7 linked regions of the Homo sapiens genome follow. The protein of the gene in region 1 purifies or fractionates together with the protein of each later gene. This does not show direct contact. Each region holds a gene or a part of one and is shown in the gene's direction. Other genes may lie near its edges. The genes, in order: RHOA, CTSA, PKN3, ROCK2, GLB1, RABL3 and C1orf198.

Region 1 (4,490 bases):
CAGCTCACTGCAACCTCCGCCTGCCTAATTCAAGTGATTCTCATGCCTCAGCATCCTGAGTAGCCTTTCAGGGGTTACAGGTGCCTGCCACCAACCCAGCTAACTTTTTTTTTTTTTTTGAGACGGGGTTTTTCTCTTGTTTCCCAGGCTGGAATGCAATGGCGAGATATCGGCTTACTGCAGCCTCTGCCTCCTGAGTTCAGGAGATTCTCCTGCCTCAGCCTCTCGAGTAGCCGGGATTATGGGTACATGCCACTACGTCCAACTTATTTTTATATTTTTTGTAGAGACGGGGTTTCACAATGTTGGCCAGGCTGGTCTTGAACTCTGGACCTCAAGTGATCCGCCTACCTCAGCCTCCCAAAGTGCTGGCATTACAGGCATGAGCCATTACTCCTAGCCTTGACTGCATGCTCTTGTTTGAAGATATGCATTGAGCACATTTCCCTATCATCGATATGCTTCTTATTGTGCTTTCATGATTAGTAGTATCTTCAATTTACTCCCTTTTTGCAAAAAAAAAAAAAGTTACTAGATTTTGTAGATTTGGATAAAATTCTATAATATCTGTATCTATATATATACACACACACGTATTCACTGCTGTATGTAATATTGTCCTGAGAATTCACAAATGAGTAATGGCAGCACTGTCAGCCCTCTGAGTTTTTTTGTTTTGTTTTCATTGTTTATTTTTGTCGTTGTTTGCCCTCTGAGTTTTCTTCTGGTACCCCTGTGGATTGTCTTATCCATTCTGGTTGGGGAACATACCCTTTAGACAATATAGTTTTGATAATGAGTATTTATTATTATTATTATTATTATTATTATTATTATTATTATTATTATTTTTGAGACAAGAGTCTCTGTCACCCAGGCTGGAGTGCAGTGGCATGATCTTGGCTCACTGCAACCTCCACCTCCCAGGTTCAAGCGATTCTCTTGCCTCACCCCACCACGCCTGGGTAATTTTAATATTTTTAATAGAGATGGGGTTTCATATGTTGGCCAGGCTGGTCTCAAACTCCTGACCTCGTGATCTGCCCGCCTCGGCCTCCCAGTGTGCTGGGATTACAGGCGTGAATCACCATGCCCAGCTGAGTGTATATAATTTAGGATTAGTTTGACTATAGGTAACAGAGACTTGAAAAATACCACCTTAAATAAGACAGTCATTTATTTCTCATTCATATGGAAGAAACATGGAAGGTAGGCAGTCTTGGGGCTGAGATGGTGGCTCCCAAGATCACCTGAGATCCAGGCTCCTTTTTACCTTTTGGTTCTTCCAGCCCCACGGTATGGCATTCATTCTCACATACCAGGATGGCTGCTTAGAAACCAGCCCTTACTTTAGATTTAAGCAGCAGGAAAGGAGGAGGATAATAAAGACTTCCCTTTAAGAAAGACTTTCTGGAAGTCCCACAACATACTGCTGATTCTCACATCTCATGGTACATGGCCATGTCTCCAAGGGAAGCTAGGAAGTGTAGTCTACAACAAAGTACATAGCTAAAAATCGAAGTATGGTCTAGGAGGGAAGGGCGGGAATTGGGATGGTTGACCATCACTGTCTGCCAGATGGAAGGAATCTGCAGATTTCTCTCTTTTTTCCCCCCACTGGGGGCGAGAGTGGTGGTAACAGCTTTATTGAAATATAATCCACATATCTTACAATTCACCTTTTTAAAGTGTGAATTATATATACTGTGGGCTGGGTGCGGTGGCTCACGCCTGTAATCCCAACACACTGGGAGAGACAGGCAGGAGGATCGCTTGACCTCAGGAGTTTGAGAGCAGCTGGGGCAACGTGGTGAAACCCGGTCACTACTAAAAATACAAAAAATTAGCCGGGTGTGGTGGCATGCACCTTTAGTTCCAGCTACTTGGGAGACTGAGATTGGAGGTTCACTTGAGCCTGGGGAGGCTAAGGTTGCAGTGAGTGGAGATCGCACCACTATACTCCAGCCTGGGCAACAGAGTGAGACCCTGTCTCAAAATAAATAAAATGTGTGAATTATATATACTATAATCAATAGTTTATAGTATATTCATAGAGTTGTGCAGCCATCACCACAATAATTTTGGAAAAATCTTTTTACCTGAGAAACTCCAGTATTCCATTAGTCATTTTCCATTTCTCTCCACCCCCAAGTCCCTGCCCTAGGCAACTACCAGTCTATTTTCTCTTTCTGAATTTGTTTATTCTGGACAATTTTATATAAATGGAATCATGCATGTTGGTTTTTGTGACTGGGTTCTTTCACTTATATAACATTTCCAAGATCTATCCATACTATAGCATATATCAGTACTTTATCCTTTATCGCTGAATAATATTCCATTCCATTGTATGGATATATTATATTCATCAGTTGTTGGATATTTGGGTTCTTTACATTTTTTGACAATATATTATGAATAATCCTGCTATGAATATTCATGTAGAGGTACAAGTTGTTATGTGGACATATGTTTTTGTTTCTCTTAGATATATACCTAGGAATAGAATTGCAGGGTCATACCTACTCACATCCTTTGCTCATTTTTTAATTGGATTAGATTATTTGTCTTTTTATTATTGAATTGTAAGAGTTCTTTATTTTTTAATTTTTTCTATATACTGTATTTAGGCCTGGGGAGGTGGCTTATGCTTGTAATCCCAGCACTTTGGGAGGCTGAATCGGGAGGATTGCATGAGCCCAGGAGTTTGAGACCAGCCTGGGTAATATAGTGAAACGCTATCTGTATAAAAATTAGTCAGCTGTGGTGGCAGGAGCCTGGTAGTCCCAGCTACTGGAGAGGTTGAGGTGGGAGGATCGCTTGAGTTGAGCCTGGGAGGCAGAGGCTGCAGTGAGCCAATATTGCACCACTGCATTCCAGCCTTGGTGACAGAATGAGACCCTTTCTGAAAATAACTACATAATAGAGAAACACATAGATAGGTTAGATAGGTACATAGATTGGATAGATGCGTAGATAGATGGGCAGTGGCTCACGCCTGTAATCCCTCAGCACTGTGGGAGGCCGAGGCGAGTAGATCACTTGAGCTCAGGAGTTGGAGACCAGCCTGGGAAACATGGCAAAACCCTGTCTCTGCCAAAAATACAAAAATTAGCTGGGCGTGGTGGCGCATGCCTGTGGTCCCAGCTGCTGGGGAATTTGAAGTGGGAGGATCACTTGAGCCTCGGAGGTGGAGATTGCATTGAGCCAAGATCACGCCACTGCATTCCAGCCTGGGTGACAGAGTGAGACCTCATCTCAAAAAAAAAAAAAAAAAAAAAAAAGATAGATGGATAGATAAATAGCGTACTTCATGTCAGAAGGAGTTCTCTCTTTTTTTTTTTTTTTTTTTTTAAGACACAGTTTCACTCTGTTGCCCAGGCTGGAGTGCTCTGTTGCCCAGGCTGGAGTGCAGTGGTACAATCTGGGCTCACTGCAACTTCTGCCTCCTGGGTTCAAGCGATTCTCCTGCCTCAGTCTCCCGAGTAACTGGGATTACAGGTGCCCACCACCACACCCGGCTAAGTTTTGAATTTTTTGTAGAAACGGGGTTTTGCTGGGTTGGTCAGGCTGGTCTCGAACTCCTGACCTCAAGTGTTCTGCTTGCCTCAGCCTCCCAAAGTGCTGGGATTACAGGTGTGAGCTACCGTGCCCAGCCCAAAAAGAGTTCTTTATGATTTCAACCTTGCAAGAGATCCTGAGCCAGACCACCAACCTAAGCTGCTTTTTTGTAGTTGAGTCATAAGAGTTTGAGACAAGGTTCCACTCTGTCACCCAGGCTGGAGTGCAGTGATGCAATCATAGCTCACCACATCCTCCACCTCCTGGGCTCAAGCAATCCTCCCACCTCAGCCTCCTTGGTAGCTGGGACTACAGGTGCATGCTACCACAACTGGCTGATTTTTTTTTTTTTCTTTTCCTTCTTTTTTTAGAGACAGTGTCTCACTGGGGTTCCCCAGGCTGGAGTGTAGTGATGCAATCTCAGCTCACTGCAGCTTCCACCTCCAGGGCTCAGGGGATTATCCCACCTGAGCCTCCCAAGTAACTGTGATTAGCATGCACCACCGCTCCTGGCTAATTTTTTGTATTTTTAGTAGAGACAGGGTTTCACTATGTTTCCCAGGCTCGTCTTGAACTCCTGGACTCTCAAGCAGTCCACCTGTTTCGGCCTCCCAGATTGCTGGGATTATAGGCGTGAGCCACTGCGCCCGGCCCTTTTCTTTCTCCCCTCCCCTCTCATGCTTCCGTCCGTCCTTCCTTTCTCAGTGTCTCACTATGTTGTCAGGGCTGGTCTCTTAACTCCTGGGCCTGAGCATTCCTCCTGCTTCAGTCTCCCAAAGTGTTGGGATTACAGACATGAACCACTGTGCTCGGCCTCAATTGATTTTTCTTTTTTGAGACGGAGTTTCGCTCTTGTTGCCCAGGCTGGAGTGCAATGGCATGATCTCGGCTCACCACAACCTCTGCCTCCCGGGTTCAAGCGATTCTCC
Region 2 (3,483 bases), on another chromosome or scaffold:
AAACTCCATCTCAAACAACAATAACAAACTGTTAACTTCCATGTCCAGTCTCCTGTGGCCACCCCCCCCCACAACCCCAAGTAAAAGGGTAACACTGGGCCCAGCAGGGCTGCTCAGGTCCATTTTGATTGGTCAGTGCTCACACTCTACCCTGTTGTATGTTGTGACTCCCACACCTGCTGGCCCCTAGACACTAAATGCCAGATGCATCCCAGTCCTCGTAACAACCAAAATGCGTCCCTTGTACATTTCTTTTTCTTTTTTTTTTTGAGATGGAGTCTTGCTGTCACTCAGGCTGGAGTGCAGTGCTGCGATCTTGGCTCACTGCAACCTCCGCCTCCCGGGTTCAAGTGATTCTCCTGCCTCAGCCTTCTGAGTAGCTGGGACTACAGGCACGCACCACCACGCCTGGCTAATTTTTGTATTTTTTTTTTTAGTAGAGACGGGGTTTCACCATGTTGGTCAGGCTGGTCTCGAACTCCTGACCTCGTGATCCACTCACCTCGGTCTCCCAAAGTGCTAGGATTACAGGCGTGAGCCACCACGCCCAGCATCCCTGTACCTTTCTAAATGGTGGTGAGTTGAGGCTGTCTGAATCCCAGCCCATCCAGCCCAACATCCAAGTCAGTCCTAGAGAGGTGGCCCCCCCCCAAAAAGGGGAGTGGAACCCAGCTGTCTGCCTTCTGGGTTGGAGCTTGGAGATAGGAGAGAAGGTCTGATCTGTTGACTACTTTTCGCCCCGACCTGGTCTTCCTGGGGCCTGCTCGTATGTTCCCGGCAGCTTTCTGGTAAACTTACAGTACCGCCGTCTCTACCGAAGCATGAACTCCCAGTATCTGAAGCTGCTTAGCTCACAGGTGAGTGGGGAGAGCACAGCTGGATCACCAGCAGCCTTAGGACCCCAGAGTAGCACAGCAAGCTGGGGGCCCTTGAGACTTCCTGTCAGGACAAGGGAAGCTGAAACTCCGAAAGGCGAAGCCCAGGGTCCTGTGATTGGTGGGGTCAGAATTTGAACCTGGGTTTGTCCCCACCCATGCTGTCCTGCTATAGGAGGCCTAGGGGTCTGCATCAGCCACGGAGTCTTAAGGGTGAGAAGAGCTTCATTCATGCCAAAAATGGGCCAGCAGAGGTCCAGGGTGGGAGGAGACCTTGCACAAGGTGATATAGGAAGCACTGGCAGGGCCAAGTTAGGACTAGGTTCTGTCCAGCACAGTGGTTAATAGCATGGGCTCTGGAGTCACATGGCCTGGGTGCAAGTCCCTGTACTAGCCACATAATCTTGGGCAAATTTCTTAAATATGAGCCTCAGGTTCTCCATCTGTAAAATGGGGATAATAATGATATCTACCTTCACAGATAAAACATTTAGTAGAATACTGGACATGCAGTAAGTCGTTAGAAAACATGAAAATTCCCTGGTTCGTGTTATCTAGCTTGGCCCCTTGAATTTCCTGAGGGGTAGGCCTTGAACTAGGGAAGGGCTGGGGACTGGGCTTGTTCCACACCCCTCATTTTTACCCCATCCTGCTTTAGAAATACCAGATCCTATTATATAATGGAGATGTAGACATGGCCTGCAATTTCATGGGGGATGAGTGGTTTGTGGATTCCCTCAACCAGAAGGTAAGGTAGAGATTCCTGGCCCTGGGATAGGGGCTGCTGTGGAGGATTGGGAGCGGGTATGCCTGGGAGTGGCCAGCTGGCTGCCTGGCTCTGGCCCACAGAGGGCAAGTGTGGAGGAATTCCCAGCCCTAAGGTCTTGCTGGTAGCTGTGAGCAAGGATGCAGCTGCTGTAGGCTGATGTCTTTCCTGGTGGGGCAGATGGAGGTGCAGCGCCGGCCCTGGTTAGTGAAGTACGGGGACAGCGGGGAGCAGATTGCCGGCTTCGTGAAGGAGTTCTCCCACATCGCCTTTCTCACGATCAAGGTAGGGACTGGGCCTGCTGAGAGATAACTGGGCCGGAGGCAAAGGAGCAGGACCCACCCGTCCTTTCCCTCTGGCTGCCTTTTAGGCTGGGTCATGGGTCACCATCTGGCCCCTGTATGGGCAAGTTTTTTTGGAGAGGGGTGGGGAGGGTTCTGGGAAGAATAAAGGGTTTGGGATGAAGGAATTGCCCCCGAGTGAGCAGTTATATGGGGAGGAGGGAATGGTGGGGTCAGGAGCTCACGAACATTGCTCCTCAGGGCGCCGGCCACATGGTTCCCACCGACAAGCCCCTCGCTGCCTTCACCATGTTCTCCCGCTTCCTGAACAAGCAGCCATACTGATGACCACAGCAACCAGCTCCACGGCCTGATGCAGCCCCTCCCAGCCTCTCCCGCTAGGAGAGTCCTCTTCTAAGCAAAGTGCCCCTGCAGGCCGGGTTCTGCCGCCAGGACTGCCCCCTTCCCAGAGCCCTGTACATCCCAGACTGGGCCCAGGGTCTCCCATAGACAGCCTGGGGGCAAGTTAGCACTTTATTCCCGCAGCAGTTCCTGAATGGGGTGGCCTGGCCCCTTCTCTGCTTAAAGAATGCCCTTTATGATGCACTGATTCCATCCCAGGAACCCAACAGAGCTCAGGACAGCCCACAGGGAGGTGGTGGACGGACTGTAATTGATAGATTGATTATGGAATTAAATTGGGTACAGCTTCAAATCCCGTCTTCTCTGTGGCACTGGGGGTTAGAGGGGGCACTACAGGCTATGAATGTGGGAAAAGAGGGGCTGAGAGGGGTTGGGGTCCTGAATGACAGCTGCCAGCTTGGGGATTGAGGGCTCAGACAGCTGCTGTGGACGGTGTGGGGGCAGTGGACGCCCTGACATCAGCAGGCCGGTTCTTCTCAATCACCTCTCGCAGCCCTTTGGCAAAGTGGAGATCAGCCCCGATGGTGAGGAATCCCTGTGTTGGGGAGAGGGGAGCCTCATTTATTCATTCAGTTATTGAGGCCAGAGTTTAGAGATCAAGAGACAGAGTGTTTGTCTTTCAGGAACTCAATCTAATGGATAATTCCATGTCAAGGTGTTAAAATGAGGCTGTAGGAGTGTAGACTATGGGTGTCAAGGAGGGCTTCTTGGAGGAGGTGACCTCTGAGCTAAGACCTGAACAATTAGTAGGTATTGGGATGGGAGAAGAGTGCTCCAAGAAGTCACAGTGTGTGCAACGGCTTTTAGGAGTCTAAGATTAAAATGGGAGGGGCGACTGGTAATGGGGGAGCTGGGGTCAGGTAATGGAGGGCACTGGGGAGCTATAGAGAGAGGGGAAGGCCCTCCCTCCTTCCCCATCCTGCCCCCACTCACCGCATGGTTCGTCACCACCTCATGCACAAAGTTGATGCCCTCAGGTAGTGGGATCTGCACCCCACGCCAGGTCCGCTCTGTGGGTGGGAGCACCCCGCTCAGTCTGGGCCCGCCCAGTTCACCCCTCCTTTCTTCCTCCATCCTCACACCCCAGCCTTACCATTGAGCATGGGCATCACCCCAATCTGCAGCATGGTCTTCAGAG
Region 3 (4,490 bases), on another chromosome or scaffold:
CGCCCGAATCCTGCTGCCCGGCCCTGGGCCTGGCCCAGCTGGTGAGTGAGGAGCTGAGACCCCCTCAGGACAGAAGGCTCTAGGCCCATCTGGCCCCTGGCCTTGGCCCTGGCCACTGTGGCGAGACCACCTCATTTCCTGCCTATAGATCAGTAGGGGAAGGAGGAAAGGCCACAGTGGGGGTCTCGGCTCTGGGTGAGGGACTCCTGTGCTCGATACCCCCGTGCACAGAGCCTGTGGCCTCAGGACCCCGGCCGTGGGCAGAGCAGCTCAGGGCTCGGCACCTAGAGGCTCTCCGGAGGCAGCTGCATGTGGAGCTGAAGGTGAAGCAGGGGGCTGAGAACATGACCCACACGTGCGCCAGTGGCACCCCCAAGGTAAGGCCCCACAGTCTGATGGCAGGAGCACCCTGGCCCCTGGTCTGACAGGGAAATGCACCTCAGCCATTGGGCTCATAAGGAGACACCATTCCAGCCTGCAGCCTGATGGGGAAAATACAGCCCCAAACCCCAGCTGGGTGAGGAAGGCATGGCTGTAGTCTCTAGTGTGACAGAGAAGGCCTTGCCCTGGTCTAATGGGATCCTAGCCCAGCCCCAGTCCCAACTCCCAGCATGATGTCCAGAACTGGGCCTCAGTCCTTGTCTGACAAGAAGACTTGGCTGTGGCCCTGATATGATGACGGAGGCAGGACCTTAGCCTTGATCTAATGGGGGAGGCTTAGCTTAGCCCCTGCCCTGATCTGATGGGGGAGGCTTATCCCCAGCCCTGATCTGATGGGAGAGGCTTAGCTTAGCCCCTGCCCTCATCTAATGGGGGAGGCTTAGCTTAGCCCCTGCCCTGATCTGATGGGGGAAGCATCAACCCTGCTCTGATGGGGGAGGCATGACCACAGCCCTGATCTGATGGGGGAGAGTTAGCCCCAGCCCTGATCTGATGGGGGAGAGTTAGCCCCAGCCCTGATCTGATGGGAGAGGCATGACCCCAGCCGTGATATGAAAGAGGAAATTTGACCCCAGCCCTTGTTGGTCAGATGGAAAAGGCTCCCCTGACCCACCAACTAGTCCAACAAGGGAGGCTTGACTTTAGTGTTTGGCCTAGAGGTTTCACTTTAACCCTGTTTTGATGGGGGAGACCCGGCTCCAGTTCCTGGTCTGATGGGGGAAGCTGTGGCCCAGGCCTGGTCTGATGGGCCTGTGCTATGGCTCCATAGGAGAGGAAGCTCCTGGCAGCTGCCCAGCAGATGCTGCGGGACAGCCAGCTGAAGGTGGCCCTGCTGCGGATGAAGATCAGCAGCCTGGAGGCCAGTGGGTCCCCGGAGCCAGGTGAGGCCTTGAGACACAGGGAGGGCGGAGCAGGGAAGAGCAGGGCCTGAGAGCCGCCGTCCTTCCCACAGGGCCTGAGCTGCTGGCGGAGGAGCTACAGCATCGACTGCACGTTGAGGCAGCTGTGGCTGAGGGCGCCAAGAACGTGGTGAAACTGCTTAGTAGCCGGAGAACACAGGACCGCAAGGCACTGGCTGAGGTCAGGCCCCAGCCCTGGCCCTCTCCTAAGGCTGGCTTGTTCCCATACCACCCTCAGCAGGGGTGTGAAGGGAGGGTGGCCGTGTAAAAGCAGGACTTCTCTGTTGAGACTTCATGCGGAAGGTGGCTCCGGGTGACCTGGGCTGCTGCCCCCTGCCATATACCCCACGAACCTGGCTCTACGTTGTCCCCTCTGCAGGCCCAGGCCCAGCTACAGGAGTCCTCTCAGAAACTGGACCTCCTGCGCCTGGCCTTGGAGCAGCTGCTGGAGCAACTGCCTCCTGCCCACCCTTTGCGCAGCAGAGTGACCCGAGAGTTGCGGGCTGCGGTGCCTGGATACCCCCAGCCTTCAGGGACACCTGTGAAGCCCACCGCCCTAACAGGTAGTCAGAAGTTCCTCCCCCTTCAAAGCTCTCCTTCTTTTTGGGGGGAGGCCGGAAGCACAAACAACTCTGATGAAGAGTTCAAGAGTTCCAGTCCTGCCCCAGCACCCACTAGCAGCGTGACCTTGGCAAACTGACATTCCTTCTTCAAACCTCAGTTTATCCATCTGTAAAATGTGGATGATATAGCACCTACCTCATAGGGTTGCTGTGTTGCACGTGATGTGCTAAGCACAGTGCCTAGCACAGTCAGCACTCGGACAGCGTAGCTTGTATTTACATAAATAACCAGAATAATGCTTAAAGCACTGGTGTTAGGAAGCTCGCAGCCCTGGAAAGCTTGATACCCAGCACTGGGCAGCTTGGACTGTTAGAAAGTTTTCTAGGCTGGGCGTGGTGGCTCACGCTGGTAATTCCAGCACTTTGGGAGGCTGAGGTGGGTGGATCATGAGGTCAGGAGTTCCAAGACCAGCCTGGCCAAGATGGTGAAACCCTGTCTCTACTACAAATACAAAAATTAGCCGGGCGTGGTGGCGGGTGCCTGTAATCCTGGTTGCTCAGGAAGCTGAGGCAGAGAATTGATTGAACCCCGGAGGCGGAGGTTGCAGTGAGCCGAGATCACGCCACTGCACTCCACCCTGGGCGACGGGGCAAGACGCCGTCGCAAAAAAAAAAAAAAAAAAGGTTTTCTTGGGCCAGGCATGGTGGCTCATGCCTGTAATCCCAGCACTTTGGAAGACTGAGGTGGGCGGATCACCTGAGGTCAGGAGTTCAAGACCAGCCTGGCCAACATGGTGAAATCCTGTCTCTACTAAAAATACAAAAAAGTAGCTGGATGTGGTGGCACATGCCTGTAGTCCCAGCCACTCGGGAGGCTAAGGCAGGAGAATTGCTTGAACCCAGGAGGTGAGGTTGCAGTGAGCTGAGATTGCGCCGCTGCACTTCAGCCTAGGTAACAGGGCAAGACTCCATCTCAAAAAATAATAATAATAATTTCCTTGGAAAAAAAATAATAAAATTAAACTAAAATTGCTGGGTGCAGTGGCTCACACCTATAATCCTGGCACTTTGAGAGGCTGAGGTGGGAAGATTGCTTGAGCTCAGGAGTTTTTTTGAGACCCAGTCTCAAAAAAAAAAGAAAAAAAGAAAGTTTTCTTGGCTGGGCACAGTGGCTCAAGCCTGTAATTCCAGCACTTTGGGAGGCTGAGGTGGACGAATCATTTGAGCCCAGGATTTCTAGACGAGCCTGGGCAACATAGTGAAACCTCATCTTTAGAAACAAAAAAAATTAGCCGGGCGTGGTGGCGCATGCCTGTAATCCCATCTACTGGGGAGGCTGAGGCAAGAGAATTGCTTGAACCTGGGAGGCAGAGGTTGCAGTAAGCCAAGATTGCACTGTTGCACTCCAGCGTGGGTGACACAGCAAAACTCTTTCAAGAAAAAAAAAAAAAGAAAGAGTTTTCTGGTCTGGCTCAGTGGCTCATGTTTATAATCCTAGCAGTTTAGGAGGGTGAGGCATGTGGATCACTTGAGTCCAGGAGTTTGAAACCAGCCTGGGCAACATGACAAAGCTCCATCTCTACAAAAAATACAAAAATCGCCGGGCGCGGTGGCTCACGCCTGTAATCCCAGCACTTTGGGAGGCCGAGGCGGGCGGATCACGAGGTCAGGAGATCGAGACCATCCTGGCTAACACGGTGAAACCCTGTCTCCACTAAAAATACAAAAAATTAACCGGGCGTGGTGGCGGGCGCCTGTAGTCCCAGCTACTCGGGAGGCTGAGGCAGGAGAATGGCGGGAACCCCGGGGGGCGGAGCCTACAGTGAGCCGAGATCGCACCACTGCACTCCAGCCTGGGCCACAGCGAGACTCTGTCTCAAAAAAAAATAAAAAAATAAAAAAATTAGCCAGGTATGATGGTACGTACCTGTAGTCCCAGCTACTTGGGAGGCTGAGGTGGGAGGATTGCTTGAGCCCAGGGAGGTTGAGGGTACAATGAGCCATGATCGCGCCACTGCACTCCAGCCTGGGCAACAGAGAGCCCGTCTCAAAAAAAAAAAATTAGGCTGGGCACGGCAGCTCATGCCTGTAATCTCAGCACTTTGGGAGGCCGAGGTGGGTGGATCACCTGAGGTCGGGAGTTCGAGAGCAGCCTGACAAAAATGGAGAAACCCCGTCTCTACTAAAAAATACAAAATTAGCCGGGCCTGGTGGTGCATGCCTATAATCCCAGCTACTCAGGAGGCTAAAGCAGGAGAATTGCTTGAACCCGGGAGGTGGAGGTTGCAGTGAGCCAAGATGGCACCATTGGAATCCAGCCTGGGCAACAAGAGCAAAACTCTGTCTCAAAAAAAAAAAAAATTTGCAAAAATTAGCTGGGTGTGGTGGCGGGCGCCTGTAGTCCCAGCTACTCGGGAGGCTGAGGTGGGAGAATGGCATGAACCTGGGAGGCGGAGCTTGCAGTGAGCTGAGATTGTGCCACTGCACTCCAGCCTGGGTGACAGAGTGAGACTCCAAACAGAGTGAGACTCCGAGCAGAGTGAGACTCTGAGCTCTGTCACCCAGGCTGGAGTGCAGTGGCGCGATC
Region 4 (4,490 bases), on another chromosome or scaffold:
AACAGCAGAGTGGTGGTGTAGACTGTTGGGTACAGTGGGAAGTAGAGAAGTAGAGTATATAGATTACTATTCTAAAAGGTTTGAGTGAAGACGGGAGGGGAAATACTGAACATTCTAGTTAAGCCTGTTAAAAAACAAGTTAAGGTTGAGCACCATGGCCCACACCTATAATCTCAGCACTGTGGGAGGCTGAGTCGGGAGGATCACTTGAGCCCAGGAGTTCAAGATCAGTGTAGGCAGTGTTTAATGAGACCTTGTCTCTACATTAAAAATAAAATAAAATAAATTAGCCAGGAGTGGTGACAAACTTCTATAGTCCCAGCTACTTTGGAGGCCAAGGTGGGAGGATTGCTTGAGCCTGGGGAGGTTGAGGCTGCAATGAGCCATAATCAAACCACTGCACTTCAGCCTGGGTAACAGAGCAAGACTCTGTCTCAAAAAAAAAAAAAAATTAGAAAGCTTTTGAAATTGTGAGCTAGTCTCTTTTTTGTTGATAGCTGCATTTTAAATATTTAATAGGAAAAAAGCAACATGGAAATAGATATGACATACCAACTAAAAGTTATACAGCAGAGCCTAGAACAAGAAGAAGCTGAACATAAGGCCACAAAGGCACGACTAGCAGATAAAAATAAGATCTATGAGTCCATCGAAGAAGCCAAATCAGAAGCCATGAAAGGTATGCATTTTTTAAAGAGGGTTTTCCAGCAGCGTCTTCCTAAGAATTGATTCTGTGTTAGCTTTTTGGTTTTGAAACATTTTTTTTTATATTTCATTGTCAAATATTGGGAATTGGAGGGAAAAAAACTATTAGGGAAGCTTTACATAGATATTCTATTATTTTTCCTTTGTATCATTACAGTAATCATTTCTAAGATAGTAAGACCCAAACACAAAATTACATGATCAGATTTTTAGATCAGAGATAAATTAATATTTCTCAATATTATATACCTGGTAATATCTGTACCACTCGGTATACGTGTATCAGTAGTAAGAAGGAATATCTGAACTTCACACGCTGTATACCTGTTACTATTGATACAGGTAATTCTTGTAATACAAGAGTTTTGTATTATAAAATTCTTGCCAGTTTATGCAAGGTAAGAATTTAAAAGTAATAGCTGGTCTAACTAGAATATAAGTTCACTGAGTATTTTGATCTCTAACATGATGAAGATACTAGCCAGATTTGGTCGAAGCCATATAATACTAATAGATAACAAAGTTAACCTTCCCATAAACTAGACTTTATCCTGGAATTGTCTTAGGATAATTTTTTCTTTTCCAAACTGACTGTTTATAATGACTCTGAAATTCCAGAGAAAATCAGTACTTTAAGCTATTCTTGTGAAAGGCTTAAAACTCTTGAACAGAAATTTATTTTCATATTGAAGCATTACATGAGTAACTAACTTAGAAAAAATAGCCTTTTAATTATTGCATGTAATTAAAATGGTAGATTTTCTTAGTAAAAATCAGTGTAGTTTAAGGCACTAAATCAGGATGATAAGAAATGAAATGAGTACTTTATTTACAAAAATCTAATTGTAAGGGAGAAAGTTACTGGGCCATATTTCCTTGTCTGTGGCCTAGAAGACAGAGTTCAATTATTTTCATTGAGGTATAATTTACATGCAATAATAAAATGTAAACATTTTTGACATTTCGTGATATGCTCACATAACTACTGTTCAAAACAAGATAAAGAATATATCAGGCTAGGCATGGTGGCTCACATCTGTAATCCTAGCACTTTGGGAGGCCAGGGTGGGAGGATCTCTTGAGCCCAGGAGTTTGAGACCGGCATGGGCAACATAGCAAGACCCTATCTCTACAAAAAATAGAAAAATTAGCTGGATGTAGTCGCGTGCGCCTATAGTCAGAGCTACTTGGGAGTAGGACTCTCAGTATTCCTGCAATGATGCAGGAACATTGCTTGAGCCCAGGAGTTCAAGGCTGCAGTGAGCCATGATTGCATCACTGCACTTGAGCCTCAGTAGCAGAGCAAGACCCCATCTCAAAAAAAAAAAAAGGACTATTTTCATTATCTCAGTAATGCCTCTTTCTATTCTCAATGCCTACATTATGGTGATTGTTTTTTTTGTTAAATGAGGACATTTGTTTAGTGATTATTCTCTGAATTGATAAAAATGAACCAATTCAGTATTAACTACCATTTTTTTCAAACTATTAAAACGCTAATGTAAGATACATGATGACTTCCATATTTTACACATGAGTACACAAAACTGTTACATATTATAGATGGTTTCAAATCTGAGGCTAAAGCCTTTGGTCCTTCTGTTGCATGTCATTGGCTCCTTGGATTAAGAACATGGCTCACCAAATAATTACTAGCTATGTGACCTTGTCTAGTTATTTAAACTTTCTGTGTCTTGTTTCCTGTGAAGGGACAATTACAGTATTGTTACGTTGTTGTGAAAATCAAGTGCAATAAAACATGTAAAGTGTTTAGAAATGCTATTATTAGTACTACATGGGGAATGTTTCATTTTTCTGCACTTTTGAAGACCATTCATTAAACACTAAATATTCATAGGTTTAATTTTTACCTAATACAACTTTATAATAGATGATAATTAGATGTTGAGCATTAATTATGAAAAAGCAGAGGAGCCTTAATTGAATGTGAACTGAAGTACTAACCAGTATATCAAGATAATCCTTTAACTGTGATGACTTACATTTAACACTGAAATCACTTGGAACTTTGCCTTCTGATAAGTAAAATAGATTAAAAATTTATTGTAAATAATTTAGAAAACACAGGAAAGTATAAAGAAAAAAGCAAAGATTACTCATAATCCTATGAGTTAGGATACTATTTTGTAAATTTTCTCCACTTTCTATACCGTTTTGCTTTTTAAAAAACAAGACATTGTGAGCGTTTCCTTGGTCATTAAAAATTCTGCTTAAATAATAAGCACTTACCAAGTGCTTGCCATATGCCAGGCAGCATTTAAGTGGTACACATGTATTAAATCTTCACAACCTCCCTAGGTGCTGTTATCCCTATTCTGGAGATAAGGAAACAGGTCCAGAGAGGTGAATTACTTGCCCAGTCAAACAGTGTTAGACCCAGGGTTTAAGCTCAGAAAGTTTGGTTCCAGAGTCTTGTCCTTTACCACCTCCCTAAAACATATTTTTCAACACCTGCATAATAATGTGTTAACATGGAAAGTCCTATGGAGATCATAGAATCTACCTGGATTGTTTTAAGGTAAAAATAGTAACACTGAGAGACATAGAATAGCAGTAAGCAGTAGAATATAAGAAACCTTTGTTTAAAGATGTAAGCATCTTGTAGAATATAAATAAAGGTAGAACTATCTTGCTTCCATTAGAATAGATGTAATATTGCAGAGTGTGATACATTTTTACACCCTGTGAATGAAACTCCTAATTTTCAAGTATGAAAGTGAAAATATTAAATTGAAAATTAAGGCCAGGTGCAGTGGCTCATGCCTGTAATTCCAGCACTTTGGGTGGCCGAGGCGGGTGGATTGCATGAGGCCAGGAGTTTGAGACCAGCCTGGCCAACATGGCAAAACCCCATCTCTACTAAAAATACAAAACTTAGCTGGGTGTGGTGGCACACGCCTGTAATCCGAGTTATGTCTGGAGGCCGAGGCACGAGAATTGCTTGAATCCAGGAGGTTACAAAGAGCTGAGATTGCGTCACTGCACTCCGGCCTGGGCAACAGAGTGAGACTCTGTCTCAAAAAAAAAAAAAAGAAAAGAAAAAAAGAAAATTAATAGAATATAAGGCAGCATCATTTATTATAATTTTTATTAGTATGGTGTCATTTAATGTGCTTTTACTTACAAATTTATGATATGCTTCTTTTATTTGTAAATTTATGATTGTGTCCATTTTTATTATACTAGAAATGGAGAAGAAGCTCTTGGAGGAAAGAACTTTAAAACAGAAAGTGGAGAACCTATTGCTAGAAGCTGAGAAAAGATGTTCTCTATTAGACTGTGACCTCAAACAGTCACAGCAGAAAATAAATGAGCTCCTTAAACAGAAAGATGTGCTAAATGAGGATGTAAGTATTAAGTGTACTAATGATTAATAATAAACTAATGAATTAATAGGTTTATTCATGAAGGTCTAGTGATGGTTTCATAATTTTAAAGTTTTTCTTATAATAGTCTGCAACCTGTTGGTTTAACTAAATTTTGATGATATACTAAAGGAATCATAATTTAAACATTTTTAAAGTTATATTTACCTTATTATATTTTATTTAAAAAATACAATTATAATATTATTAGAAATACAAAAAAAATTTTAGTATGAAATGAATTAGCTACCTAAGGGTAAAAAAATCTGTTTTACATCACCATATTTTATACCAACTTCATTGATTAGAAAAATGGAAATAATTTACTTATATACCAAGTACACAATTTATTTCTTAGGTTAGAAACCTGACATTAAAAATAGAGCAAGAAACTCAGAA
Region 5 (4,490 bases), about 16 Mb from region 1:
TAAGGGTGGGGTCCATTTCCAATTCAATTTTGTACCTGCCACTGTACAAAGTTTGTTGAACTTCGTGCCTTTATCCTACATGAGAAATTATATTCTGAAGGACTGCTCGTGACAACTATTACTGAAATGCACAAAGAACCGTGTTTCATAACAAAAGCAGATGCATTTCAGGACTTCCAGTCCTCTCACCGAAATGGTCACAGGAAGGAACACAGGAAAAGATTTTCTTCACCAAGAAAATTTGTTCAGAAGATTTTAAAATATTTCCCATTCTCTTGTAATCAACAGCTTTCATTTCAGTGGGAGCAGATTACTAAGACATTCTGCTCTATTGATGGTGACTGTTTCTTCGCTTCTAACTTGGGTGTTGTCTTAGTGAATTATGATCATTGTAAGGTCAATTTTTAAAGTCTAACCTTTTAAAAAGTTAGGAATATGTTGTTGATAAAATACCTGTTGTTTTTCCTCATTCTGTTGTATGATTTTCGTGGTTAATGCATCATGTCAAGTATTTTGAGGTGAGAATACTCCACCTAACTTCTCTGATTTTATCTCTTTTGTCTGATTTTGTCTTATCTCTCCATGTTGTTCAGAAGCAATTTTTTGTGAGTGACTTTTGTGCTGTCAGAACACGAAGCAGCTACTCTAGTAAGAATCCTCCCCTGGAATTTTCCACTAAAAGTAGTTGGCAGTAAAACATTCCAGGGCAAAGGAAACCAGCTTAGACCGTTCCATGCTCTGAGCTGTGTCTGGCAGTTTTCCTGTTTAGGAAGCAGTGATTGGGGGATCTTTCCGACCTGGCCGGTAACTTGGGCTAAGATGCTATCAAAGCATTTCTTTCCAAGTCTGGTGACACTTCAAGGCAAGAAAATGAGTGCTAAATTAACTGAGCATGCTGCCTCTCCTTGCTGACCTTCTTACCCTCAATTCAATTGTCATTTGGTCTTGAACCCCACAGATCCCCCAGGGAGTCCTTGAGCGAAACAATGTGATCACTCTGAACATAACAGGGAAAGCTGGAGCCACTCTGGACCTTCTGGTAGAGAACATGGGACGTGTGAACTATGGTGCATATATCAACGATTTTAAGGTAGGACAAACCACACTGTCAAGACTAAGGTTTAAGGGGTGACAACTTAGAAGTTGAAGCCCAGTACAGTGGCTCACACCTGTAATCTCAGCACTTTGGGAAGCCAAGGCAGGAGGATCACTTGAGGCCAGGAGTTCAAGACCAGCCTGGGTAAAATAGTGAGACCTCTACAAAGAATTAAAAACTTAGCCAGGTGTGGTGACATGCACCTGTGGTCTCAGCTACTCAGGAGGCTGAGGCAGGAGAATTGCTTGAGTCCAGAAGTTGGAGATTAAAATGACCTATGATCATGCCACTGCACTCTAGTCTGGGTGACAAAGTGAGACCTTGTCTCAAAAAAAAGAAGTAGTTGAGCTATTTTGAAGAGCTGTTTTCCTCTGTAGGTGATGAGAAAGTTGAGCTTTGCAAACAGAACCTTTCCCCTGTGTTTGAGTTTGGTCATCCTATAGAAAGAAACAGAAGGAGGAAGCCCCTCCACCATGCTTTTCCTCTGCTTTAAAAGACCACCAAGCTCACTGAAGGCACTCCTTTGCCAGTAAAGCCAGCTGAGCCTCTGTTCTGCCCTGTTTTATGGGTTTGGATGGTTAGCCTGTGGCAAACTCTTCACTTGTAGGAAGCCTCTTCCCTTGGGGCACTGGCTCTCACCTCTGTTGATTACTCCTGTGTCCAGATGTGTAGCCCAAATAAGTTTTTCTAACACATATTTTTAGAGCATTATTCAGCAAGCATTTGTTAAGCTCCCACTCCGCGAGATGCCCCACCAGGTGCTTTGGGGAATGCAAAGGTGTCAAGAGACAGGCTTCTCTCAGGGAGCTCAACCTCCGCGAGAGGAGAGAATGCCTTATCAAGGGAACAATGGCACCACCCAGGCTAGGGCAGGACAGGTGTCTGGGGCTATTTCCTGACCCTCTTGAGATCAGGCAATTACATCTTAGGGAACTTAGGGAATAGCTGTGTGCAGGCCACCTTTGCCTCCAGTATAAATGTCTCTCTCATAGTTCTTGTGCTCAGGGTGGACTTCATGGCCTCCTGCCTGGCTCTCACAGGCCACATTGACCCATGGGAGTGACTCGACTCTGTTGTGTAGTCTCTGGGTCTCCAGTACCTGTCAAAGAGCCTGACATACAGCCACCTGGTTAATATTTATCAAATTATTAAATGGGCAATCGAGACTTGGTATCTGGGATTCCACTGGGAATGGGGAAGTTCCCTACATACAAGCCAGGGAAGGGGAAGTTAGCTGAGCCTTGACAGCCCAGCCCTGGCCTGTGTGGAACAAATAGAGCAGCTTCTGAATTCAGGTCTGAGGTTTGCCATCGTCATCATTACCTTCCTATCCTCTTAAGGTATCACAGTATTCTCATGTATGTTATCTCACTTGGCCCTCATAACAGGTGAGTGACTCGGGTGTGGTCCTCCCTGTGATGATGGCTGAGGTGCTCAAGGCCAATATTTGCTCCTGGCTGCATCCGTCGTACCTGCTCCATCCGCAGTGGGATGACTATTCCTTTGTATCCCACACTCACTCATTCCTTCTGTCCCCAGATTCCATCTTGAGACAGGATCTTGCTGTCACCCAGCCTGGAGCGCAGTGGCACAATCTCGGCTTACTGCAACCTCTGTCTCCTGGGCTCAAGCAATCCTCCCTTCTCAGCCTCCCAAGTAGTTGGGACTATACGTGCATGCCCCCACACTAGGCCAATTTCTGTATGTTTTGTAGAGACTGGATCCCTTTTTGTTTTGAGATGGAGTGTCGCTCTGACACCCAGGCTGGAGTACAGTGGCGCGATCTCAGCTCACTGCAACCTCCACCTGTCAGGTTCAAGCGATTCTCATGCCTCAGCCTCCTGAGTATCTGGGATTACAGGCACCTGCCACCACACCCAGCTAACTTTTGTATTTTTAGTAAAGATGGGGTTTCATCATGTTGGCCAGGTTGGTCTTGAACTCCTAACCTCAAGTGATCTGTCTGCCTTGGCCTCTCAAAGTGCTGGGATTACAGGCATGAGCCACTGCGCCTGGCCCATCTTTCTTGGTGCCCATCTTTCTCTATTCTAGCAGTGGCTCTCAGCCAAACTCTGAAAATTTGGGAATTTGGGATCAATCACTCTAGCAACTCAATGCCCTTTCTGTAGAAGCAGAAACTCTGGGCCTTTTATAGAGACATCATGACCTGCAAAGGAGAAAGCTATAGTTTGGGGAATATATCTCTTCCCAAGGATTTGTAATTCAACCTCCAGTTAGATCTGTGTTACTTCGATGTACACATATTTCGAGGTTCATTTCCTGTTGGTGTTTTGTATCCCGGTTTGCTTTTCCCATTTCCCTGGAATGCAGAGACATGTGAAGCCTTTTTCCTTCCCTCCCCAGCTCACTGTGCTCTGTTTCTGCTTTGCAGGGTTTGGTTTCTAACCTGACTCTCAGTTCCAATATCCTCACGGACTGGACGATCTTTCCACTGGACACTGAGGATGCAGTGTGCAGCCACCTGGGGGGCTGGGGACACCGTGACAGTGGCCACCATGATGAAGCCTGGGCCCACAACTCATCCAACTACACGCTCCCGGCCTTTTATATGGGGAACTTCTCCATTCCCAGTGGGATCCCAGACTTGCCCCAGGACACCTTTATCCAGTTTCCTGGATGGACCAAGGTACGTGTCTTCATGGGAAGGGTTTGAATTCAGGCCTAAACTTTTGGTTGTTAGTGTCTGAGAAAGAATCACAAAGAGCTGTTAGTGAGATATCGTGTGATGGTTTTGAGTGTGGCGTTTCGGACATTCTTCAGGAGGCGGATTGTGGCAGATCTTCAGGGATTCAGTGGCCAGCTCGGAGGTGCTGCCATCTGCCCCCTTGTCATTGGCTTCCTGTAGTGAATGACACCATCCTGCCTCCTCCAAGAAGAATCATGACCCCTTTTGATGCTGATTATAGGGGTGCTTTCTCTTTATCTTGAGGACAATCCAGTCAAGACAAAGAGGTGGATCCCTCTGGGAGAGTCTGTCTGGTTTTCATTTATGCCAAGCCCAGTGCTCCCAGAATATCCCCACCTGCATCCAGCCCCACACCCCTGGGGCTTCTATCATAAGCTGTCTGCTTCTCCACTCTTCCTCATCCATTTTCACTTCCCAGTCACTCCGCCTTGTCGTTTGAAGACATTGGCATATCTTCCTTCACCGCCTTCTCCTCTCCCTCATGTCCTGTTTTCATCCTAGATCACCTTACCATCACTCATTCAACACACTTCTCATTCTGTGGCCACTATGTGCCCAAGGTGTGTGCCAGGCACTAAGGATACAATCATGAATAAAACCAAACATGGTCCTTTCCCTCATGGAACTTTCAGTCTAGTGAGGGAGGCAGACTCATATTAAAAAGTAAAACCATAGCTGTGATGGATG
Region 6 (4,490 bases), about 71 Mb from region 1:
TTTCTACTTAAGAAACTTATCCTTAAATTTAGGGTTAGGAGACAGCATATTCATATCAGAAAGAAATCTGCATTTTTGTCAGGGAATTCAGTAAAAGTTCTATACCCATTTGCATTTTGACACTACAGTTTCATTTTGATTCTATAGATAAACCTGCAAATGTATAAAACAACCTTAATACATTGGTGTGCTTTGTTGGTGCATTATTGTATAGCATCAAAAAATTTGGAAACAACCCTAGTGTCCGAGCAACGAAAGATTCATTGAATAAATAATGGCATATCCACATACTGGAGTAGTATTCAATGTTTAAAAAAGAATCAGGAAGATCTCTATGAACTAAAATAGAAAGATCTACAGAGGGTACATTATTAGGTTTAACAAATCAAAATGCAGAGAATATATATCGTATACCTCCTATTGTATAAGAAAGAAAAGAAATAATATGTATTTATATTTGGATAAAGAATCAGTGAAAAATAAGAAACTAATAAAAATGGTAACCTATAGGGGGCCAGGGGAGATGGGTGGATGGGTACAGTGGTAGGAGCAAGACTGCTTAGCATATATCTTTTATATCAGTTTGAGTTTTTAGCCATATTTAAACAATTTAGGTAAATTTTATATTATGTAGTTTTTACCACAATAACTTTTTTTAACTTTTTATTATAGAAAATTTTAAACATATGTAAATACAAAGAATGGAAAATGAACTCCCATATACCCGTTGCCTAGTTTCAACAATTATCAACATATAGCTAGTCTTGTTTCATCCATATCTCTACCCACTTTCTATCTTCTCCCACTCTCAACTGGATTATTTTGAACCAAATGTTAAAACATCATATCATTTCATCCATATATACTTTAAAACATAAGGGCTTTTTTTTAACATGACACCATATAATTATCACAGCTAAAACTTTAATAATAATTCTTTAATAACCAAATATTATTTTAATTTCCCCAATTGTCTCATAAATGTTATAATTGATTTTTTCGAAATAGTATCTAAATAAGGTCCACTGGTTGTATTTGGTTTCTTAAGTATCTTTTAATCTTAGGTTCTCCCTTTTTGGTTGTTTTTTTTCCAACCTCCTAGCACTTTATTTGTAGAAGAAGATGGCTGTTTGTCTTGTACAGTTTCCTATATTCTGGATTTGCTGATTGTCTCCCTGTATTGTCTTTTAAACTTGTTTCTCTGAATTCTAAATCTTCTCTGAAGTGATAATTAAATATAGTGGTCTGAAAGATGCAAGTTTTTTTGTCTTTATTTTTCCACCCAGTATTATGCATATAATATGATACCTGGCTGTGTGTCTCTTTGTGATGTTAAGGAGCTATCAGCCTTATCCATCCATGATAAAGTTCTTCAGAAGTTTACCAAAGAAGATTTCAAGATTAAATTTTAAATTGGATGCTGCAAGATTTTATGAAAAAGTTAAAAGGAAAGCTAAAAAGAGAAATAAGAGAGCAAACTATATATGTATGCTTTATATGTGTCAGTGTGCAAGGAATTGTGCAAGACTATATGAGAGATGTATGTACATCAAAGATGATATTTGATAGAAGATATGCAAAACTTTGTATGTGAGACAGAAGGAAACAGTCCTAAAGGAAAGACACTCTCAAAACTTCATTCCCTAACAAAGCGAATTGTAGCTTTGAACCATGTCTCTTTAATTAGAGTTGCTGTTGATATGAATAATCAAAGGTCTTGATCATGCTATTATTGGCTTTGATGCAATAAATAGAATGGTAATATTTTTGTGAGATGGGAGGTTGTATAGTAAAACACTTGTGTTCCGAGGCTGAACAGTTTGCTGAGGCGCTGTAAGATTATTGTGAAGGGCATAAATACTTAGTAACTTTGCCCCCTACCCCAATTTAGAATTTCTGTAAGAGAAAGAAAAGTAGTGTTAAAGGAAGAAAAAAAGCTATGCTCGACTGGGTTGTAGTGATTGGATTATGCAATATTGATTTACTGTCATAAATTGTGCACAACCAGATTTTGCTGACTGTTGTAAGTTGAGCTTATAACGTGTCAGAAATCCAAATCTGTTTTATTTCTAATATGTGAGTAGAATTTAAATTAATTCAACAGCAATGGCCTCTGTGTTCTTTTCAGTAATGAGAAGTATCATTTACATCACCACTCTGTTCTTTGGATAAATAAATTTTTTAAAAAATAAGGATTGTAATAGCCAGTGATCCAAGGCCACTAACCCTAAGTGGTTCTTATTGCCCGTCCTCTATCTCCCATGGCTCTCATTTCAGGAAACAACTACTTGGTACTAAGTTCTTTCCTTTTACTATTCATTTTGCATTTCAGCTGTTTCCTTCCATTTCCATGTGTTTAATCCACCTTTCCCAGGCTATAGTATCACCTATATTTGATTTATTCTAGGCTTCAGCTTCCCTATTTCTATTTTCTTATTCTTCTTATTTCTTTACTATTCAGACAGAAATGTGTATTGTAGATATAGAATTAATGCATACCCCAAAAGGTACCCAAGAAGCTTGCCATTTTCTCTTCTAGCACAAGGCTTGAGTGCCATGCTAGGCTTTTGGGTTTTTGCTACGATGAGGCTTAAATCCACTCTCTGCTTCTACTCTGAAATATTCCTGAGCTGTTATGTTAACCTTAGAAGACACAGCTACATTGGAAGTTAAGTCCACTGACTGTAATATACTTGATGGGCACTTAGTTGTTCAATTATTCAGTATTGTTCAATATTCAATAAAAACATGGGACCAAATTTTGAGAAGTTAGATGAATAGCTGGAATCTGATGATGAGGATGGATTGATAAAAGAACAAGTAGATGGAAGAAGTTGGAAGGAAAGTAGGTTTGTAGGTGAAGGCAGCAAAAATCAGTTAATTTTCAGTAAAATAGTGTAACTTAGTTGCACTTAAATATTACACATCTACACCAGAAAGATACATTCTATTCACCTCTTCATTATTATTTATCACAGGGATTATGATCAAGAACAGTTTGCTGATAACCAAATACCACTGTTGGTAATAGGGACTAAACTGGACCAGATTCATGAAACAAAGCGCCATGAAGTTTTAACTAGGACTGCTTTCCTGGCTGAGGATTTCAATCCAGAAGAAATTAATTTGGTATGTATTTTCACTAATGCATGCTTGTATTATTATCGGGTAAAGACAAAACTGAAGACATATTCAAATAATATATTCTAGTGAAAGAAGCTTTATACTTGAAATCAGGCTATTTGGATTCTAGTCTAAACGTAGTCAAGATTGGAATCAACATATCTAGACTGAGAGATGTGCACAGTCACTTCAGCCTTTTATGTTGGTCTGTTGGAATGTTCCAACTTTATTCTATGAATAATTTAAATCATAGGCTTCTTTTTTTGAAACAGAGTCTCGCTCTGTCGCCCAGACTGGAGTGCAGTGGCGCGTTCTCAGCTCACTGCAGCCTCTACCTCCTGGGTTCAAGCGATTCTCATGCTTAGGCCACCTGAGTAGCTGGGATTACAGGCATGTACCACCATGTCCAGCTAATTTTTTAAATATTTTTAGTAGAGATGGGGTTTTGCCATGTTGCCCAGGCTAGTCTTGAACTCTTGACTGGATTTGCCCTCCTTGGCCTCCCAAAGTGCTGGGATTACAGGCGCGAGCCACTGCACCTGGCCCATGGGCTTTTTCTTGAGAAAGGTTTTTAAAATCACACCAAAATTAAAATAAATTGATTAAAGTGGCACTATAAGCATATTATTCTTGCTTTTAAAAAGCCTCTTAGCTTCTTAAACTACAAATTTTACCTTAAAGGGCAACGTAACAAATACATGAAAAAATTGCAAACCTTAAACTAGGAGTGCTTCATAAGGACTAATTTATGTACACTTATGCATATATAGAGGATTGAGTCCCTTGATGAGATAACTAGCTCAATGAGAACTGAGCGCGTAAAAAAGCTAAGAAATGGTTGTCATGTAAGCCTGTTAGGATCCCAGAAAAAGATCCTGGCCAGCAATTTCAGTCATGGTCATGTTGTTCACAAATAGGATTTCTGCAACTGTGCACTGGCATTCCAGAAATGCAGTGGTGGTGGTGTAATAGTACTAGTGAGCAACATTTATTGAGCACTTACGGGTTGAAAACTGTTTTAGTTATTTACATACATTATCTCACATGCATCATCTTCACAATCAACTCTATAAGACAGGTACTATTACTATCCTCTTTTTAAAGATAAGAAGGAGAGACGTAACAAGACCAAGGAAGTTTACCCAGGTCAATTAGGGTATTCAGATTCAGAGCCTGTGCTCTACAGTTAAGCCTCTTTTGCACTTAATTAATCCTTCAACTCACCTTGAGAATTTGGCAGCTGAAAAAACTCTTAGAAATCATCTAGACCAACAGTTACCCAAATCTGATTGTGTATTTATATTACCAATAGTACCTATGGAAAATTTTGAATAACCGTCCCACAGCTGGAGCTTTTTATTCATCAA
Region 7 (4,490 bases), on another chromosome or scaffold:
TTCTCTGTGTTCCACTTACTTATCCTTCCATCCCCCCAACCCCTGGCAACCAACGATATTTTAACTGTCTCCATGGTTTTGCCTTTTCCAGAATGTAATATGGTTGGATTCATACAGTATGCAGCCTTTTGAGATGGGCTTCTTTCACTTAGTGATACTCATTTAAGGTACTTCCATGTCTTTGTATGGCTTGGTAGCTCATTTCTTTTTCTTGCTAAATAATGTTCCATTGTCTGGATGTATCACAGTTTACTTATCCAATAACTGAAACACATCTTGGTTGCTTCTAAGTTTTGGCAATTATGAGTAAAACATCTGTGTGTAGGTTTTTTGTGTGGACGTAAGTCTTCAGTTCATCTGGGTAAATGCCAAGGAATGTGATTACCTCACTCCTGTAATATATTTATTTGTGGAGGAATAAATATAGAAATAACTATAGCAGAAGCACAGTTGTGCATGGAGCTGTGGTTGGGAGGCCCTCAGTTGGTCAACATGTCCAGGGTGCTGTCATTATCAGTGACAACAACCAGTGTTGTCACTCGGTAATTAAACCTTACAGTTGATCCACAGGACAGGCTCTGGCATCTCTGAGGGAGTGATGGGCACGACACAGCTCACCAGGAACAACGTGTTCCACCCTGGATGAACCAAGATGGCCAGGCCACCTGGCATCACTACAGGGTGACACACTCTGCAACCTATGGGACTTTCTGTCCTGCTCACATGCTCTGCTCTCTAAGCCTTATTTCTCTAGCTTATAGAATTTCTCAGTTTACATTTCTTACCTTCAAGCCAAGATGCCACAGGTGTCAACCAGAAACTCTCCTTATTTATGGATTTCAGGAAGACGATGACCATTTCTGGCATCAATACGCGTGTTGCCGTGTTCCAAGATCCTGATGCTGTTTTAGAATCACCCCAGAAAGCCCCTCACTCCCCGCCTAGCTGTTTTTCCTGGAACAGCTTGTGGAGGCCCTAAGGGAGCCCCCATGCTGGACAGCTCCCTCTGCAGGCGCTATCCATCCACACACCAGAAACACTTGCAGAATGTGATGAATATCAGGATGTTTGTTATGGTTGTAGCCTGTGGTATGCTGGAGCCGGCTCTGGGGGAGTGAGGCGAACTAGCCCTGACTTCTAGCATTTGCTGGTTGCCATGACCAGATACTCCACCATGGCCCGTTGCACGCTGTTGGCGTGACTCACGGGATGCATATCTGGGCACCGCGCTATATGGTATTTCCACCTTACACATACAATGGATGCAAACAACCTTAAGACCATGGATAATAGTAACTGTATTGAAATGATGAGTTTCTAGTGTTTATTACTTTTTTTGGGGGGGGCACACTTTAAAAAAATTCAGTTTTTACAGTAGTTTTAGGTTCCAGCAAAATTGAGCGGAAAGTACAGAGAGTTCCCACACAGACCTTTCCCAAAATGTACACACAGACGTGCATATGCACACAGCCTTTCCCACCACCAACATCCTAAACCAGAGTGGTGCACTGATTACAATCAGTGAACCTGCATTGTTTTTATCATTGTCAACCGAAGTCTCTGGTTTACACTAGGGGTCGCTCTTGGAGGTATACGCCATGATGGTATCATACAGAGGGGATCCATTGCCTTAACAGAAATCCTCTGTGTGCCACCTGCTCATGCCTCCCGCCCCCCAGGCTCTGGCAGCCACTGATCTTTTTACTGTCTCTGTAGTTTTGCCTTTTCCAGAATATCATATAGCTGGAATCATACAATATGTAGCCTTTTTAGATTGGCTTCTTCCACTTAATAATATTCATTTGAGGTTCCTCCATGTCTTTCCATGACTTTTTATTGTGGTAAAATACATACAACATAAAATTTACCGTTTTAACCACTTTTCTGTGTATAGTCCGAGGCATTTAGTACAGTCTCAATGTTGTGCAATCATCACCACCATCCATTTCCAGAACTCGTGTATTATTTAAAGTGAAACTATATCCTTTAAACAATGAAACTCTGTATATATTAAACAATAACTCCCCATTTCCTGGCCTCAGTCTCTGATAACCTCTATTCTACTTTCTGTCTCTATGATTTTGCCTACTCTAGGTACCTTATATAAGTGGAATCACATGATTTTTATCCTTGTGTCTGGCTTAGTTCACTAAGCATAATGTCTTCAAGGTTCATCCATGTTGAAGCATGTATCAGAATTTCCTTCCTTTTTAAGACTGAATAATATTCCATTGGATGGATAGACCACATTTTGTTTATGCATTCATCATCTGTCAGTGGATACCTGGTTGCTTTCATCTTTTGGCTATTGTGAATGGCACAGCTATAAACATCGGGGTATAAGGATCTCTGAGCCCCTGCTTCCAGTTCTTTCGGGTGTATACCTAGGAATGAAATTGCTAGAACAAATGGTAATTGTATGTGTAATTTTTTGAGGAACTGCCGAACCGTTTTATATAATGGCTGCATCATTTACATTCCCACCAAGAGTGCACAAGGGTTCCAGTGCCTCCACATCCTACCAATACTTGCCAGTATCTGCTTTTTGATAGTAGCCATCCTTGTGGGTGTGAAGTATATTACCTTTATTTTTAATACAATGGACTTAATTGCAAGTTTGTATAATTCACCTTTTTAATCACAGCAGTTAAACAAGATATTTAACAACAGGTTCAAGAAATTCCTCAAAATTTTACAATCAGCTCTCGTTAGTTGGTGCAGGCCTGCTCCAACACACCTCTGGTTGCAGCCTTGCAGCCTCCAAAAATAAAAGTGTCTAGGAACCACAGAGTTCTTAAGCCCTCCAGTATCCATTTTTTTTATCAACAAGTAAAGAAGTAAACGCTGGCGATATGATGCAAACATGTATTCCAGCACTATGAGCAAAAAATATATGTTATTATTTTTAATTCTGTTTCATTTAGGATTTAGGAGGTGCACACTGAATTGAATGAACATTTCCCAGAGAAGAGCAAATACTCAAGGTCTCTGGGATGTTAGGGAAAAAGATTGTTTGTGTGTGTGTTTATCCCGGAGTCCTTGGAGCTGCGTGGGGACTGGCAGAGCCTCTTACATGTAGCGCTGGCCTCTGATAATTGCCAAGTGCTCTGTGTTTCTGGTGGCTTTCTATAGCTTCCCCCCTGCTTTTTGGCTTTCTGCTCTGGGATTTGGTGACCTGGGGCATCTTTCTGTTCTGCACTCCAAAGAAGTCATTGTTTCTGGAGAGATTCAGTGCTGCCCATTTGGTATGGATGCCTCTTACGGAATTTGACTCTGAGGATAAGTCCTGGCCAACAATGAAGCCCACTCTCTTGTCGTGTGGCCTAAGTAACAGATGTGTTTTGACACTTAGATGATTTCAGATCCTAGGCGCCAGAGAGGGGGGTGGGAAAGCCTTCCAAGCAGTCCTAGAAAAAGCATATGTGATTGGTCCAAAAGCATGTGCCTGGCCTCATTTTGGTTGCAGGCTGGTCACCATGGGAGTAGAAGAAAGGACAGCATTGTATGCGTGTGAGTGGGTGCCGCCACTTTGCAATTCTGATTCCATTTGCATCCAACAGCCCAGGGAGCCTGTTCTTGCCGCCAGTGCTTTTTTGTGGCTAGAGCGTGCAGTCCACGGCTGACATCAGAGCTTCCATCACATTTTTGTTTGGCATGTTTATTTTTGTTAAGCACTTTATTGTTTTTTATGAGCTCAGAATTACAGAAACCCAAGGAATCTGCCCCTTGACTTCATTTCTTGCTGGAGCAAACAGAAGACTATTGACTCGACACTAAGTAGGGGAGAAATCACAGTGTGACCCTTTCTCCTCCTGTGACCCCCTTGGAATTTCAGCTAATATGGGTTGCAGTCACTGGAGAGTTGACTGTCCCCAAGCTCTGGGCTAAGTCTTCGTTCCTCAGAGTGTTGTATTGAGCCACCTTCCAAAGCCAAAAGCCTTATTATTTTAATCTTTGCAGATTTCAAAGGGACTTAAGGTATATAATTAATATTTAGAATCATATCGAGTAACAGGGGAGTCCAGCTCCATCATGCCCCACCCTGGCCAGTCAGTGGTCCTGCCCTCTGCCTGCCCCGCAGGTGTTCATGCACTTCCTCTTTCCATTTGGGTGGCCAGTGGCCTGTCTGATTCTGGATGGAAGGAGCACCTTTGCCAGTTGATTTCCATTTACCTTTTTCGAAAGATCCAAAGCTGGATCTCTACTCTACCCTGTGGATGGCCGGTTCTTCCTCCTGGAACTAAGAGCTGTGAAGAGCCGGTGAAGTCTTAGGGGGTGTGTGAGTGTGGGGTGTGGAGGCTGGGGAGGAAAATCAACCTGTGAAAATATCCAGGCTTGTGCAGAGATCATTTATTCACGAAGAGTTAATGAATGATTAACTAGAATAAATGATACTTACATTCCATCAGCCTCTTTTATTTTTCCCATGTGAAAACAAAGCCCTTCTTGGTTTGATTGCTTCTAAACGGAACTCAGAGGGTTCTGAGGAT

What was found.
Region 2: the proteins of RHOA (region 1) and CTSA purify together in Homo sapiens (co-immunoprecipitation; 5 studies listed by BioGRID and IntAct, with this or other methods). This does not show direct contact.
Region 3: the proteins of RHOA (region 1) and PKN3 purify together in Homo sapiens (affinity purification with mass spectrometry; 4 studies listed by BioGRID and IntAct, with this or other methods). This does not show direct contact.
Region 4: the proteins of RHOA (region 1) and ROCK2 purify together in Homo sapiens (affinity purification with western blotting; 3 studies listed by BioGRID, with this or other methods). This does not show direct contact.
Region 5: the proteins of RHOA (region 1) and GLB1 purify together in Homo sapiens (co-immunoprecipitation; 4 studies listed by BioGRID and IntAct, with this or other methods). This does not show direct contact.
Region 6: the proteins of RHOA (region 1) and RABL3 purify together in Homo sapiens (affinity purification with mass spectrometry; 3 studies listed by BioGRID and IntAct, with this or other methods). This does not show direct contact.
Region 7: the proteins of RHOA (region 1) and C1orf198 purify together in Homo sapiens (co-immunoprecipitation; 3 studies listed by BioGRID and IntAct, with this or other methods). This does not show direct contact.

What each region holds. Positions count from the first base shown.
Region 1 is NC_000003.12:49,377,035-49,381,524, reverse strand, and holds part of RHOA (transforming protein RhoA isoform 1 precursor), read left to right. Parts: intron 1-4,490. UniProt on the Homo sapiens protein: Small GTPase which cycles between an active GTP-bound and an inactive GDP-bound state.
Region 2 is NC_000020.11:45,896,184-45,899,666, forward strand, and holds the end of CTSA (lysosomal protective protein isoform b preproprotein), read left to right. Parts: intron 1-781; coding exon 782-857; intron 858-1,533; coding exon 1,534-1,623; intron 1,624-1,821; coding exon 1,822-1,926; intron 1,927-2,183; coding exon 2,184-2,267; 3' UTR 2,268-2,637; downstream 2,638-3,483. Other genes in the region: PLTP (phospholipid transfer protein isoform a precursor), read right to left, coding at 2,758-2,880, 3,279-3,355, 3,439-3,483. UniProt on the Homo sapiens protein: Protective protein appears to be essential for both the activity of beta-galactosidase and neuraminidase, it associates with these enzymes and exerts a protective function necessary for their stability and activity.
Region 3 is NC_000009.12:128,705,503-128,709,992, forward strand, and holds part of PKN3 (serine/threonine-protein kinase N3), read left to right. Parts: coding exon 1-41; intron 42-231; coding exon 232-377; intron 378-1,210; coding exon 1,211-1,322; intron 1,323-1,393; coding exon 1,394-1,521; intron 1,522-1,719; coding exon 1,720-1,903; intron 1,904-4,490.
Region 4 is NC_000002.12:11,207,870-11,212,359, reverse strand, and holds part of ROCK2 (rho-associated protein kinase 2), read left to right. Parts: intron 1-519; coding exon 520-679; intron 680-3,912; coding exon 3,913-4,073; intron 4,074-4,449; coding exon 4,450-4,490. UniProt on the Homo sapiens protein: Protein kinase which is a key regulator of actin cytoskeleton and cell polarity.
Region 5 is NC_000003.12:33,013,309-33,017,798, reverse strand, and holds part of GLB1 (beta-galactosidase isoform a preproprotein), read left to right. Parts: intron 1-958; coding exon 959-1,090; intron 1,091-3,488; coding exon 3,489-3,743; intron 3,744-4,490.
Region 6 is NC_000003.12:120,697,062-120,701,551, reverse strand, and holds part of RABL3 (rab-like protein 3), read left to right. Parts: intron 1-2,978; coding exon 2,979-3,129; intron 3,130-4,490. UniProt on the Homo sapiens protein: Required for KRAS signaling regulation and modulation of cell proliferation. Regulator of KRAS prenylation, and probably prenylation of other small GTPases. Required for lymphocyte development and function. Not required for myeloid cell development.
Region 7 is NC_000001.11:230,858,252-230,862,741, reverse strand, and holds part of C1orf198 (uncharacterized protein C1orf198), read left to right. Parts: intron 1-4,490.